Regions from separate parts of the Homo sapiens genome. Here regions 1 and 2 are each reported to be linked to region 3. Evidence: microRNA targets listed by miRTarBase, many of them from high-throughput screens and not tested one by one. Region 3 holds a microRNA gene; each other region holds the end of a gene's coding sequence.

The links. Region 3 holds the annotated microRNA hsa-miR-4481 (GGAGUGGGCUGGUGGUU, at 2,009-2,025, shown strand). A microRNA usually pairs through its seed, bases 2 to 8, with sites in the 3' UTR of a target mRNA and lowers its output. Matches are read on the target gene's strand: a 7mer-m8 pairs with bases 2 to 8, a 7mer-A1 pairs with bases 2 to 7 and ends in A, and an 8mer does both.
Region 1: miRTarBase lists SIT1 as a target of hsa-miR-4481. The part of its 3' UTR that is shown has no 7-base or 8-base seed match.
Region 2: the mRNA of CARD10 is a reported target of hsa-miR-4481. Seed matches in the 3' UTR shown: 7mer-m8 at 400-406 and 7mer-m8 at 865-871.

The regions. Positions count from the first base shown.
Region 1 is chr9:35,647,378-35,650,377 of GRCh38, reverse strand. SIT1 (signaling threshold regulating transmembrane adaptor 1) reads left to right here. Exons shown (of 5, transcript NM_014450.3): 3 at 1-21; 4 at 133-194; 5 at 297-1,083. The coding sequence ends at 530. LOC101926948 (a long non-coding RNA gene) reads right to left here. Exons shown (of 2, transcript NR_135130.1): 2 at 2,902-3,000. Among named protein-coding and RNA genes, the nearest start is that of SIT1, 2.1 kb to the left of the region's middle. RefSeq lists an enhancer at 647-696.
Region 2 is chr22:37,488,369-37,491,368 of GRCh38, reverse strand. CARD10 (caspase recruitment domain family member 10) reads left to right here. Exons shown (of 20, transcript NM_014550.4): 20 at 1-1,007. The coding sequence ends at 210. Among named protein-coding and RNA genes, the nearest start is that of MFNG, 3.5 kb to the right of the region's middle.
Region 3 is chr10:12,647,394-12,655,205 of GRCh38, reverse strand. MIR4481 (microRNA 4481) reads left to right here and starts at 2,009; the gene lies at 2,009-2,068. All of the region lies in intron 2 of CAMK1D (calcium/calmodulin dependent protein kinase ID), which reads right to left.

The DNA of each region.
Region 1 (3,000 bases), not on the chromosome of region 3:
ACCTGCATTATCTACAGACAGGTAGGGAGCTGGCAGAGAGGAGGGGCACAGAGGCCAGGTCCTGGGTGGCTGGGATGGGGGCGTGCAGGAGGAAGGACAAGTTGCTGACCAGATTCCTGTTCCCCGTCCCAGGACGGCTGTCTCAAGACCCAGAGCCAGACCAGCAGGATCCAACTCTTGGAGGCCCTGCCAGGGTGAGTCAACTGTGGCTGGAGAAAAGGGGGAGGGAAGGAAGTGGGGGGCTTTTCGGGCTTTTCCGAGGGTCCAGTGAACTTCTAACAGCCTTGCATCTCCAGGCTGCAGAGGAGGTGATGTGCTATACCAGCCTGCAGCTGCGGCCTCCTCAGGGTCGGATCCCCGGTCCTGGAACCCCCGTCAAGTACTCGGAGGTGGTGCTGGACTCTGAGCCAAAGTCCCAGGCCTCGGGCCCCGAGCCGGAGCTCTATGCCTCAGTATGTGCCCAGACCCGCAGGGCCCGGGCCTCCTTCCCGGATCAGGCCTATGCCAACAGCCAGCCTGCAGCCAGCTGAGATGGAGGGCCTGGCACAGCGGGGCGTGCACTGCCCCAGCCCCCCGTAGCAGGGGCATGACTGTTTCCCAACCAGCACCCAAAGACGGGCGCCATTGCCAAGTCACAGGATGTGATCTACCCCGGACTTCCTATCTGAGCTTCAAGGGAGACATCTCAGGGCAAAGCTTTCGTGATGGAGGAGGCAAAGACAGTAGCCCCCTCCTTATTTCTTTTTTCTATCTGTTCCTCTTAGCCCCCAAACTCCCAGGTTCTCACTTCCTTCTTCTGGAGTTTAACCAGATCCTCCCCACCCCCGCTCCCTCATAGTCTACCCCCACGCCTCAGTGTCTCCTCAGGCACAGGAAGTGGGCGGTGGGGGAGGGGTAAGGGCCTGACAGTGGGTGGGTGGGTATATTCCTCAGGAGTCCACAGACTGGAGTGGACCTGGAACTTAGAGACGGGAGGGACCCGAGCCTGGCTTTTGACCTAAGAACCCTAGCAGGAGAATACAGTCTCCATCCTGCTGTCTCTGTCCTGTCCCCAAGTTTTCAAATAAAACTTTCCAAAAAGTGTTTAGATTTTTACCTAGAAGGCTGAAGACTTGCAAAGGGCCCTGCAGATGGGGGTGTGAGCTTTGCTGTCTGCACGGAGCTCTTTCTGGGGGTGCCTAGCTGGGGATGAGGGGCCAAGAGGGGCTGCGGCATCAACAGTGCAGAGGTGGGCACCGGGGTGGAGGGCCAGAGCCCAGCTCCTCAGCTGCTGTTGCTGCTGCTAGAACACCCCTGGGATCTGCACTCAGAGCCACTGCATTCCCCCTGGGGCTGCAAGCTCACAGTCCTGAGCTACTCTCCCCTTGACCTCTATAACTGCCATCACCTCCACAACCTGCCAGCCTGGTTCCTTCATCAAGTCCTCCAATCTGACCTCCGTCTGTCCGCTATGAGTCCCACCTATACCCCTGTTTTGACATCAGTAGCCTTATCTGCACTTAGTCATCGTATACCCCTAGAGGCCTTCTCCTTACCCCATCACTATGGCAGCGGTCCATCTCCACTCACTCTCTCCCACTCTGGCCTCCCAAAGTGCTGGGATTACAGGCATGAGCCACCGTGCCTGGCCTTCACTCTCTCAGTTGTCACCTGCAGTCTTGGCAACAGTTTTGCTTGTCACCACTTTCATTTTAATCCCCATCTAATTTGTCCTGCCTGTCCACCCATCACCTGCTGATTCTTAACCCCAGCCTCCTACCCCATATAGCATGCTACATCAGCCAGTTGGCACAGAGATTAGGACTCTGGGCTCAGGAGCCGGACTGCCTGCATTCAAATTCCATGTCTACCACTTACCAGCTGTGTGTTCTTGGGCAACTGTGCCTCGGTTTCTGAATCTGTAAGATTGAGAGGATATTAACGGTGTTTACTTCAAAAAAAGGTGGTTGTGAGGCTGAATGAGTTACCATTTGTAAAGCACTTAGACAATAAATGCTCAATAATGCTAGGCATTATTAAAATAAGAGAAATACAGGATCCTCTATGGGAGCTCATAGGTGAAGTGACTTCTAGGTAGAGACATGACACATAGTAGGAATCTGCCAGGAGAAGCGAAGGACAGAAAATGCTCCAAGGCAAAGGGAACCACAGGCAAAGGAGAGGCTTATTCAGAGGACCTGGCAGAAGTGCATTAGGCACAGCGGAGGGTAGAGTGAGATGGGGGCAATGGTAAGATGAGGCTGGAGGGGCAGACAGAGCCAGATCACACTGCGCCCATAAGTCATGCCAAGGAGCTTGGGCTTTATCCTGCAGGGGAGGTGAAAGGGAGTCACTGAAAGTTTTAAGCGAGGGATGAACACAGTGAGTTAAAGGCTCTAACTCCACTGGCTGCTGTGCTGATCTAGTGGTCAGCAGTCTGGAGTCAGGCGGCGCCTTTCAAAGGCTATTGCAAGATTTGAGTGAGAGGGGATGGCGGCAGTAGCGGTAGGGATGCAGAGGAGGGATGGATTACAAAGAGATGTTTAGGGTTTTTTTTTTTTTTAAAGGCCCCACCTATCACATCTTCCAGATTTCTGGTTAGAGCCTGTAACACCCCCCAACCCAAATCCTCATCATCATAATACAGCATAGCTCCAAGTTGGTTTCAGCTCATCACCTTCCTCACCTGGCAATCTCTCTCTCTCTCTCTCTCTCTCTCTCTCTCTCTCTCACAAACACACACACACCCTCCACCCCTTAAGCCCATCTGTGATCCATCTGTCTAGCAAAAGCTCCAACCTGTCAAACCTCTTCTAGGATATTTCAAGGTCTAGACCATCTCCCCAGGGCCTCTGTAGAGGCGGGCCGCGCTTGACAGATCTTTCTGAGGCTTGAGGGGCTGAAGAAAGGAGAAGCTGAGGCTTTCACTTCCAAGCTTCTCTTCTTCCCACTTGGAGTGCCACAGGAAGCCACAGAGGAGGAACCCGTGCGCCTGATTCCTGCCTGGTGGTCCCAATTTGA
Region 2 (3,000 bases), not on the chromosome of region 3:
CGGGACTCAGAGCTGCTGCGGCAGTGCCGTGGCTCAGAGCAGGTGCTCTGGGGGCTGCCCTGCTCCTGGGTGCAGGTGCCCGCCCATGAGTGGGGACACGCAGAGGAGCTGGCCAAGGTGGTGCGCGGCCGCATCCTGCAGGAGCAGGCCCGCCTCGTGTGGGTGGAGTGCGGCAGCAGCAGAGGCTGCCCCAGCAGCAGTGAGGCCTGAGGCTCATCTGATACCTGCACCTTCTCCCCAAGCCAGCGTGGACCCTGGTGTCTATGGTGAAGCTGGGCCCTCCCACCCTGAGCCTTCCTAGACCCTTGGACTCTCAGATGCAGGGCCCTTGGCTCTGGCCTCTCACCCCCAAGGCTGTCTCTGGCCCTGCCGAGCCTATGGGAGTCCCGGGACAGAGTGCCCACTCCCCTCTACTTGCTGCTCTGGGCCTCCCCACCTTTCCTGGGGTCTCCACATTCCCACTAGTGGGTCTTATGTGTGTCTGTGTCTTCTCCTTAAACACTCGCCCTGGAGTCTGTTCTCACACCTGTGCGCAGGTTTGCACACTCAAGTTCTCATGGGCAGGCTCAGGTCTGTCCCGCTGCCCTGGGCACGAGGTCTCCTGAGGACCTGGGCCTGTTCTGCTCCTAGGAGACCTGAGCCCGTTACCGCGTGACTCCCACCATCCAGCTCGCGCTCCTCGTGGATTCAGCCATGCATGGACTGGGGTGTTCCCTGGCCCATGGTCACCTGTGCCCCTCGTGTCTCCTCACATGGGTGTCTGTGGTTCTCTCCTGTGTAAATGTCACGCCCCACCCCTGTTTCATGTGGGCACTAACACGTGTGCGTTCCTGGCGGGCACACTCAGGACCGTGCCTCACAGGGCCCACTCCCTGCCTATGCCTCCCTCTTGGGGGGCCGAGGAGGGCGGCTGCTCTGTCATGAGAATGTACGGCCCGTGGATGATTAACGGGCCTTTTTCACTTAGAAGCTGCACATTATGGAGCATTAAACACTTTTGTCATAGATGCTGGTGGCCTTCTGCTTGCTTGTATCCCTGGCCTGGGTCCCCATCACTCTCCTCATTTGTCTCCCAGCTCAGGCGGATACCACCTTTCAGGTCCCCGCTTGCCTGTCAGGAGGGTCGGATTTCCCGCCTGCCTCTTCCCAGAGCCGCCCGCCATCTGTGCTGGCGTCACCTTACCTGCCCCTGAATGACCAGAGGAGGGCCCCACAGATGGGCCACCCCAACGCTCAGCCCTGCCCACAGCTGATCATCAGAGGAGTGTCCCCTGGAGCAGGGCACCAAAACTGGCAGGGTGTGGCCTCCGACTGAAGGGGCCTGGCTGCTGAGCCCAGGAGCTCAAGAGCAAACCCTTGGTATGCACGCAGGTTCCTGAGACAGCTCTACTGGAGAGAGGATGGTTGCTCCCACTGGGAGCAATCCAGGCAGCCTTACTGGAAGAAGTGCCACTTGAGCTTGGGAGTTGGGATTCCTTTCTTCAGGAACCACTTATTGGACCTACGTGTCCAAGTGCAGGTGACTGTCCTCAGCCACAGTGATGAGGCTGGGCAGGTCCCTGGGGCTTGGGGTTGTGGGTGTACTAACTAGGTAGGGTAGCCTCAAGGGCGAAAGCTCAGAGGCAGCACATGGGTTGGATCTGGCCACCTTGGATGGGGTCGGAAATGAGGTTGGGAAGGGCAAGTCCAGGGGTGGGGTTGGGAGCGCAAAGGAGCTTGGGCTGTGCCCTGGAGGCTGTGGGAGCCTCTCAGGATGTGGGAGCAGGGCTATGGGAGCTCTGGTTTGGAGTTGACTTAGAGAGGGCTGAGGCCAATTGGAGTAGGGGGTGGGGGGCAGGGGCAGTGGAGGAGAGAGGAGCAGACAGGAAGGAGGGGATCTGTGGCCTCCAGGGGTGGGTCTGGATCTCCATGTTTGACAAGAAAAATGCTTAAGAAGGGGTCAGGGCTGGGGATTTGGGGTGGTGGGTGGAGAAGGGAATGGAGAAGCTGGGAGAGGGGATTGGGGTGTGGATCAGGGGGCCACAGCCCCATCTTTAGTGGGAAGAGACAAGGAGTGGGTGTAGGGGAGAGGTGGTGAGGGTCTCAGAGACTGGACCACGCAGGATGACGGTGCTTGGGTATGAGGCCAGGGTGGACGGTGGGCCCAGGCTGTCCCGGGAACCCAGAGAGGCTTTCCCAGGATGGAGTGCAGGGTGCGCAGGGCACTGTAGTTTGGTTGAAACCCAAAGCTCTGGTCAGCCAGGAGACCCTGGCAACTCGGGTGGCCTCTCTGGGCCCAGGGCCCTCCCCTGTGGAGTGGAGGCCCGGATGGTGGAGTGAGCATGGAGGTACGGATTGGCCACGGCTAGGTGAGCACGTGTGGCTGGGGCTGAGCCATTGCTTGGGAAAAGGTCTTCCCACTCTCTACGACAGGGTGTCTTTGACAAGGTGCAGATTGGACTTGGAGGCCTGCCAGTCTGTCACCACTGGGGTAGGGGCTGGGGAGCTGGACCCTGAGTGGCAAAGGCGGTGCCCTGGGGGAAGGGCAGCCTCCCTGCATGGGAATCAGCGGCAATGCCGCTTTCTACTCCAGGCCTTCCCAGGTGTTGACTCTCCCATCCCCCCAGCCACATCCTCCCCACCGCGGGCAGTGGCAGTGGCCTTTCAGTTTACCCTTAGCTGTGCTCCTCTGCTCATGTGGCCCCTGCCTGGGCTGCTCTCCCTGCCTGAATCTTCCTGATCTTTGAAGCCTGGCTGAGATATTACGTATCTCCATGAAACCCACCACCAGGTCCTCCCAGCCCTTGGGACTTCTCCTGGCCCATGCCATATTCTGCCTTGTGGTGGGACGAGGGTGTCTGTGTGGCTGTCTCTCGATGTCTGTGGCTTCCTGGGCATGGAAACTGGGCTGTGTGCATTTGGGTACATGAACCTCCCCCTGCCCCACAGTGAGCCTGGCCCAGTGCTTGGCCTGGGGAAAGGCAGGGGCCTGTGACTTGGCTGCCTTTGCCTGTTCCCCGT
Region 3 (7,812 bases):
TCATGAGTGTAAGTTTCCTGAGGTCTCCCTAAAAGCCGAGCAGATGCCAGCACTATGCTTCCTGTACAGCCTGCAGAACTGTGAGCCAATTAAACCTCTTTTCCTATAAATTACCCAGGCTCAGGTATTTCTGTATAGCAATGCAGGAACGGCCTAATCCAATGGGTCTCAAGCTCAGATACGTGCTAGAATTATCTGAGGAGTTCCAAATGTACTAATAACTGGAACATTTTTGGAGATTATGATTTGATTGGCCTGCGGCGTGGCCTAGGCGTAACAAGTTCTTTATAGTTTCTCCAGTGATTCAAACGTGCAGCCAAGTTTGAGAACCACTGGTAAGTCATTTATTACTAAATTACTGAGAATCTTAGGTCATGGGAAAGGGTTCAACTTTAGATACTTCAGAGCTGATAACTTCGTGGCTTCCGTGCCCATTTTAAATTTATCTAGGCTGAATACATTTATTTGATAATAAGTCTGATTTTTAAAGGTTAAGATCCAGGGTGTCCTAAGGATAAAGATTTAAGGCTACATGGCCAACCCATTACTCCTCTCAGGATAAGAATATGAAAAAAATAACATTTCTTAGCAAGTATAATAGTATTAGCAACTAATATTTCTTAGCAAGTAGTATTAGTAATACTTCTTCTACTATTTCTTAGCAAGACTTTGAAACACTAACACATTTAAAGGAATACTGTCATTTCCTTCTTTGAATCTTTTGGTAACTTTTTGTCAAAGGGTAATATATATTTCTGTGGGCATTTTAAACATGAAAATTAGCACCAGGAGTCTCAGAAAACATTAAGGTGTTTACCCGCCTTGAAACAGAGATTAACTCTTGTAGCTTGGATTTCCTAGCTTCACTGATGTGAGAACCCACATACACCAAATCACCTTAGAAAGGGAAATCTCAGAAAGCTTGTTTCAGATTCACTGTGGATGCTTACAAGGTGAATTTAGAAGCTATTCCTGTATGAAATACTGTTAATGACACAGAACTGCTGGGGTGTATCCTGCAGCTTCCTTCACATACTCTGTGCCCCAGATTGAAGACGCTGGGCTTGAATTCAGGAAGCATCTTTGAGGTTTCTAGCTCTGAACACTTGCATTTATATGAGGATAAGTAAGTGGAAGGGAAACAAAATAATGCACTGGAATCTAGGGGAAAGGTATTGTTTCTTTTTTCTTTCCTACCACTAATGTCCTGTGCTTTCTCTGTGCTGATACCCACATGGAAGGGTCCATATTTCACAACTCAAACCCATGACCATGTCAAGCCAACAGGTGCCCTGAATAGCACCTACTGAAATTGGAGGACCCAGTGCTGCTCTTTCATTCAAACGAGATAATGAAGCATCAGGAACACAGGCCAAAATGATCCTAGGCATTGCACTAAAGCTACTGGGGTATGGCAACATTTATTTAGAAAGTGGGAAGCCAATTGTAAAAGAAAAAGATGAGATGAAAATAGTAAGATGAAAAACAGAGAGGGAAGTCTGTTTTGAACAACCATCTAATTTCAGTTCACTGTCAGACTTAGGGGGATTGAACTCATACTGTATAATGTTCCTCATCATTCTGGGAAAGTGCCCACATTCAGAGATGATGGTGCAGAATTGAGTGTTCTTTAATTTTTGCACATCAGTAATTAACGTTGTCACATGGTTGGCTCAGGTCACACTCAGGCTTCAGATAACCAGGCACATTCCAATGGAAGAAAACATCTTTCAAGCACTCATATGTTGGGAATGAATTAGGGTGTTTGTGGTTCATTGTATGTGTGTTTTTAAACATAATTTCTTATTTTCTGATCATCTCTATCAGTGTGCATAATAAGGACAACTCTGTGCTATGGTATGAATATTTGTTTCCTCCAAAACTCACACTGAAATGCAATCCCTAATGTGGCAGTATTGTGAGGTGGGGCCTTTTAGAGGTGACTGAATCACAAGGGTTCTGCCCTTATGAATAGATTAACCCATTTGTGGATTAATGGGTCATCACAGGAGTGGGCTGGTGGTTTTTTAAGAGGAAGGGAGACCTAAGCTAGCACATGAGCACGCTCAGCCCCCCAGCCATGTGATGCCCCACAATGCCTCAGGACTCTGCAGAAAGAGTTCCCCACAGCAAGAAGGTTCTCACTAGATGCAGCCCCTCCACCTTGGACTTCCCAGCCTCCACAACTGTAAGAAATAAAGAAAAGGTTCTTTATAAACTACCCAGTTTCAGCTATTTTGTTATAAGTTATAGAAAACGAACTAAGACACCGTATTCTTTCTTAAGAATTAATTTCTTCATAACTGAGATGAGTCACAATTAAAAAGAGCAGCATGTTTTGCTTTGTTGATGTTTTTTAAACGAGGGGTGTGTAATACACATCCACCTCTCCAAATTGCAGTTTTATGATAGATCATTGTTAAATGCTAAGGTGGTCTGAGCTTATAGTTCTATTATATCCTGCTAATAAAAGACTATGATCAAGGATGTCAACTCAAGAAACTTCCTAGTGTAACCTCCAGGGCTATTTGCAAATTCTCAGGAATGACATTACAAATAGGTTGTGGCTAATAAACTCGTTACTATTCACCTAGTTTTCTTTCTTTCTTTTTTTTTTCGAGATGGAGTCTCGCTCTGTCGCCCAGGCTGGAGTGCAGTGGTGCACTCTCTGCTCACTGCAAGCTCCGCCTCGTGGGGTCACACCATTCCCCTGCCTCAGCCTCCCAAGTAGCTGGGACTACAGGCGCCCGCCACCACGCCCGGCTTTTTTTTTTTTTTTTGTATTTTTAGTAGTGACGGGGTTTCACCGTGTTAGCCAGGATGGTCTTGATCTCCTGACCTTGTGATCCGCCCATCTCTGCCTCCCAAAGTGCTGGGATTACAGGCGTGAGCCACAGCACCCAGCCCTAGGGAATTTGTTTTTAAAGAAGACTCTCCTACTAAAAAGTGAAGAAAAATAAACAAACAAAAAACAGAATAAAGATGGGGGCAAGGGAGTGGAGGGAACCAGTGTAATCAACAATTCAAAAGTGAAATTAAAAGCTTTCTTCCCCACTCCAACTAGTAAAGACTATTACTGACACATTTTCAAATACAAAGAGAAGATCTTCCCTCAAAAAGTTATTTCCGGCCGGGCGCGGTGGTCACGCCTGTAATCCCAGCACTTTGGGAGGCCGAGGCGGGCAGATCACGAGGTCAGGAGATAGAGGCCATCCTGGCTAACACAGTGAAACCCCATCTCTACTGAAAATACAAAAAAATTAGCGGGGCGTGGTGGCGGGCACCTGTAGTCCCAGCTACTTGGGAGGCTGAGGCAGGAGAATGGCGTGAACCCAGGGCAGGTGGCTTGCAGTGAGCCGAGATCGCGCCACTGCACTCCAGCCTGGGCGACAGAACGGGACTCCGTCTCAAAAAAAAAAAAAGTTATTTCCAAAGATGGTAATGAGCTCCTTTGTCCTAAATCTTTGGCCTCTTTACAGTTTCTTTAAAAACAAAAAAGAAGTTGTCCAGGCAGTATGGCTCACGCCTGTAATCCCAGTACTTTGCGAGGCCAAGGCGGGAGGATCACTTGAACCCAGGAGTTTGAGACCAGCCTGGACAACACGGTGAAATCCCGTCTCTCCAAAAAGAAAAAAAAAATACAAAAATTAGCTGGGTGTGGTGGCACGTGCCTGTGGTCCCAGCTACCCAGGAGGCTAAGGTGGGAGGATCTCCTGAGACTGGGAAGTTGAGGCCGCAATGAACCATGACTGCACCACTGCACTCCAGCCTGAGTGACAGAGTGAGACTCCATTTCAAAAACATGAATAAAATAAAATTAAAAGTTGTGTTAAAATCAGGAAGAAGCCAACAGTGGGCCAAAGGCGGAGATGTGCGCATACACACACCTGTCTGTATGTAGGCATAAATGTCTGGCCACCTTCCTTAAGCCCAGTTTAAAGTCCCACAGTTGCTGGACCCACAGTGTTTGAGTTGCTATTTCATCAGAGGTGGGGCTTGGGGCGCAAAGCCGTTACTGTTTAGTTCACTAGGCAGGCAGAGAACCTGGCAGAATGATTTGTCTCAGGGGGAGGACGCTGAAAACAGTGGAGGGGTAAAGAAACACGGGGAGGAAGGAGGAGGTGGGAGCAAAGTGCCGTAAATCGTAAAAAGCCGGCAAAAGCCTGTTTCCAGATTCATTCCCAGTCTCATGAAGCCCCGTCGGGATGTGTGAAGCTTAATCCAGGGAGCCTTAGGGGAAGCGAACTCGAATCTGGGGGAGGAAGACTGGCAGGTGTGGAACCCTGCAGTAAGGGTGTGGGGCGAGATGAACCCCCTGATGGGTTTTTTTCCCCATGCATCCTTTTTCCTCTCTCTTTTTATCCTTGTAGAGTGAGGGATGATGCTGCTGGTGGACTAAGTGTCTGCAGAGCTGATGTTTTTGATAATAAATAAACACATGAAAGCTCTGCTTAATACAACAGCCGTTAGGACATCACAAGAGAACGCGGCACAAGGATGCTCCAGCTGCGCTGCAGATTGGGGCGGGTGGAGTGGGCAGGGGAGGGACAGGGAGGCACAGTCTGTTATGGTCCCCACTGCCCTTTTGCCATGTCCACTGCACATGAGGGACCCTGGAACGGCATTGCGGCACGTTGTGTGCAGACACCTCACATAAAACCCACAAACCTAGGCTTCATAAAACACAGAGAAGGGACCCAGGAGTGCCAGGCATGAGGCTAGGCAGCAGGGCCCTGAAGATAGATAAAACACAGTCCCTGAAACCAGGTGGCTCCCAGGCCAGTGTGAGAAGACAGAAGTGTACGTAAACATCATGACACAGCACGACCAATGTCCTGCCAGAGAGCCAGACACAGGGCTATGCGGGCACAGCCCTGCCCTGGCATCTGACCCTGCCCCTGGCACGCTGGTCGGGCTGCTCCCCAGGATCAATCTGCGCTCCAGTCTGGGCTGGTGAGCCCTGCACAGGAAGGCAAAGGAAAAGAGCATGTCAGAGAGAGGGAACCACATCAGCAAGGGCAGAGAAGCATGAGGGCACTACAGCCAAACAGAACACTCACGTGGTCGGCAGCCCCTCCAAGGGTAGAGGAGGGACTGCTGTGAGGGGCTTTGTCACCAAGGTCACCTGTGCGGGTTTTATCCTAAAGGAACTAAAAAGTAATATGCCAAGTGTAAAACTTCAGCTCCAGAAAAACTAAAGGCGGTGTTTTCTCTTGCAGAGATGCTGAAGTTGAACACGGTGAAATCGTTCCTGGGAAACCCTGCTTGGAGTCCTGACCCTCTCGCTCCCACTCATGGGGTGACTTGAAACTTGGAACTTCACTTTACTCCACTTTTAATTTCCCAAGTGAAAAGTTGATATACATTTTTGTTTCATCATGAACAAGTGGAGAAAGTCCATTTGACCAGAGTGTAAATGTCGAGATTTCCTTGGAGAATGAGTTGGAGTTAGGAGCTCTTCAGAGGTGATGATGGCAAAACGTATCCTGCAACATGTCAACTTCATTATTCTTTTCACCAACATTTTTTTTTGTTTCTAAAGAAAAGGGGGACTGCCAGAGGAAAGAAAAACAAAAAACAAAAACATGATCTGTCATTATCTGGGGTTTCTTTCTTTGGCGTATTCCTATATCTCCAGAATTAGAATACCATTGACTGAATACCTGTGTCTTCAGAAAATACCCTGTACATGTCTGAAAGATTTTCTCCTCTTTAACAACAAACACCTTGAATGCAGAAGGCACCAGCTACTTGGTGGAATTTCCGTGGACGCAGAGGGGACCAGCCTTAACCCATATCGAGTTCCCATGGGCTCCCCCCAGCACACAGCTCCTGGCCATTTGCCAGCCGACCTCCCCTTTCTTTCAGACACACATCCATCTATCTGCTGGCTCTTTTCTTCCTATCTTAACATTCACTCACACTTGGAACCTGACAACACAGCGCAGAGTCAAGGTAATGAACTTTCTGTGTAAACTGCCTCTCTGTGTTAGTGTGTACGCCAACTTGGCAAAGCACAGATTGTAAAAGATATTGAGTTGCTGGGTGTGGGAGCACGTGCCTGTCATCCCAGCTACTCGAGAGACAAAGTGAGAGGCCTGCTTGAAGCCAGGAGGTCAAGACCAGCCTGGGCAACATAGTAAAACCCGGTCTGTAAAAACATTTTTAAAAATTAGCTGAGCATGGTGGTGGGTGTCTGTAGTTCCAGCTACTCAGAAGGCTGAGGCGGTGGATGACTTGAGCCCAGGAGGTCAAGGTTATGACTGCACCACTGCTCTCCAGTCTAGGCAACAGAGCAAGACCTTGTCTCCAAAAAATTAAAAAATAAATTCAAACAGATGCCTATTATACAAAATCTCTTCAGATGAACACTAGCCCCTGATTTCTACACGTACTAAAAAAGGATCTTTGAAGTGAAGATTAAATAAAAAGAGAGACCGGGTGTGGTGGCTCACACCTGTAATCCCAGCACTTCGGGAGGCTGAGGTGGGTGGATCACCTGAGGTCAGGAGTTCAAGACCAGCCTGGCCAAGATAGCGAAACCCCACCTCTACTAAAAATACAAAAATTAGCCAGGCATGGTGGCGCATGCCTGTAATCCCAGCTACTTGGGAGGCTGAGGCAGAAGAATCGCTTGAATCTGGGGGGCGGAGGTTGCAGTGAGTCAAGATCACACCACTTCACTCCAGCCTAGATGAAAGAGCGAAACTCCATCTCAAAAAAGTAAGTAAGTAAATAAATAAATAAATAGCAAGCGAAAGACACTGAAGTCCATCTAGCGGAGTAGCCATTACTGATCATCAATATCCCTGCGGAGCACTGAAAACATAACCATTACCAGCTCTTACCCAGTCCTACTGAAACGCCATCGCTAGGCAGGGGGAACCTGGGAATCAGGAACATTTTTAAAAGTCTCTAGTAACTCTAATGATTAGGTAAATCTGGAAACCAATATTCTAGCCAGCCCTCCATTTACAGACGGGAGAATTAAGTGAGTGCCCCACGAACTCTTAGCTGGTTACAATGGCTGTATGTCCTGGAATATAATGTCTTTAAGGTCTATAAAAAATAGCTTTTTTATAAAGTTATAAATCAAAACAGCAAATGATTCAATAAAGAATGTTCTACCCTCTACCAGGTTTGAATTTTGAATTCTTGGACTCTTCGCAAGATGGCATCATGGCAAGAGTGGCCTCCTCGATGCTTTGCATCCTATCTCTGACTGTCCAGAACTTTGGCCTGCAGATCCAAGCTCCATCTGCACACCTGCACACAGACCTGCCTTGGCCTAAGGACATCCCATCAACAGTGCTGCCGGCTCTCAGGAGGAGGGTCCCAGGAAGCAGTCCATATGGGCCCCAGAAGTGCATTCAAAGTTGCTTCAGAAGAATTTCTGAGGTCAAGAACTCCTGAGTAAGCACACACCCACAAGCATTGGGTGGAAAGATGTCCTTGGCCCTATGTCCTTCACCCTGCAGACATCTCACTCCATGGGAAGGGCATGGCTGGCTCATGGCCAGGACAGAATCTCCTAAAGCAGGGGTTCCTCTTACCCAGGTCTAAGAATGGAACATTCTTCTGGAATACAGAACAATTCCCGCCCAACTGAAAGTCAGCCTCTCTCCCTCTCAATATATATTCATAGATGGAAATATGTATATATATATTTACAACAACTGCTTTTCTACAAAGCATTGGTATACAGAAAAATTTTAAGGAAACTGTAATATGTTTCTGAAGTAAAAAACTAGGCGGAGGGCTGGGTGAGGTGGCTCATGCCTGTAATCCTAGCACTTTGGGAGGCCGAGGCAC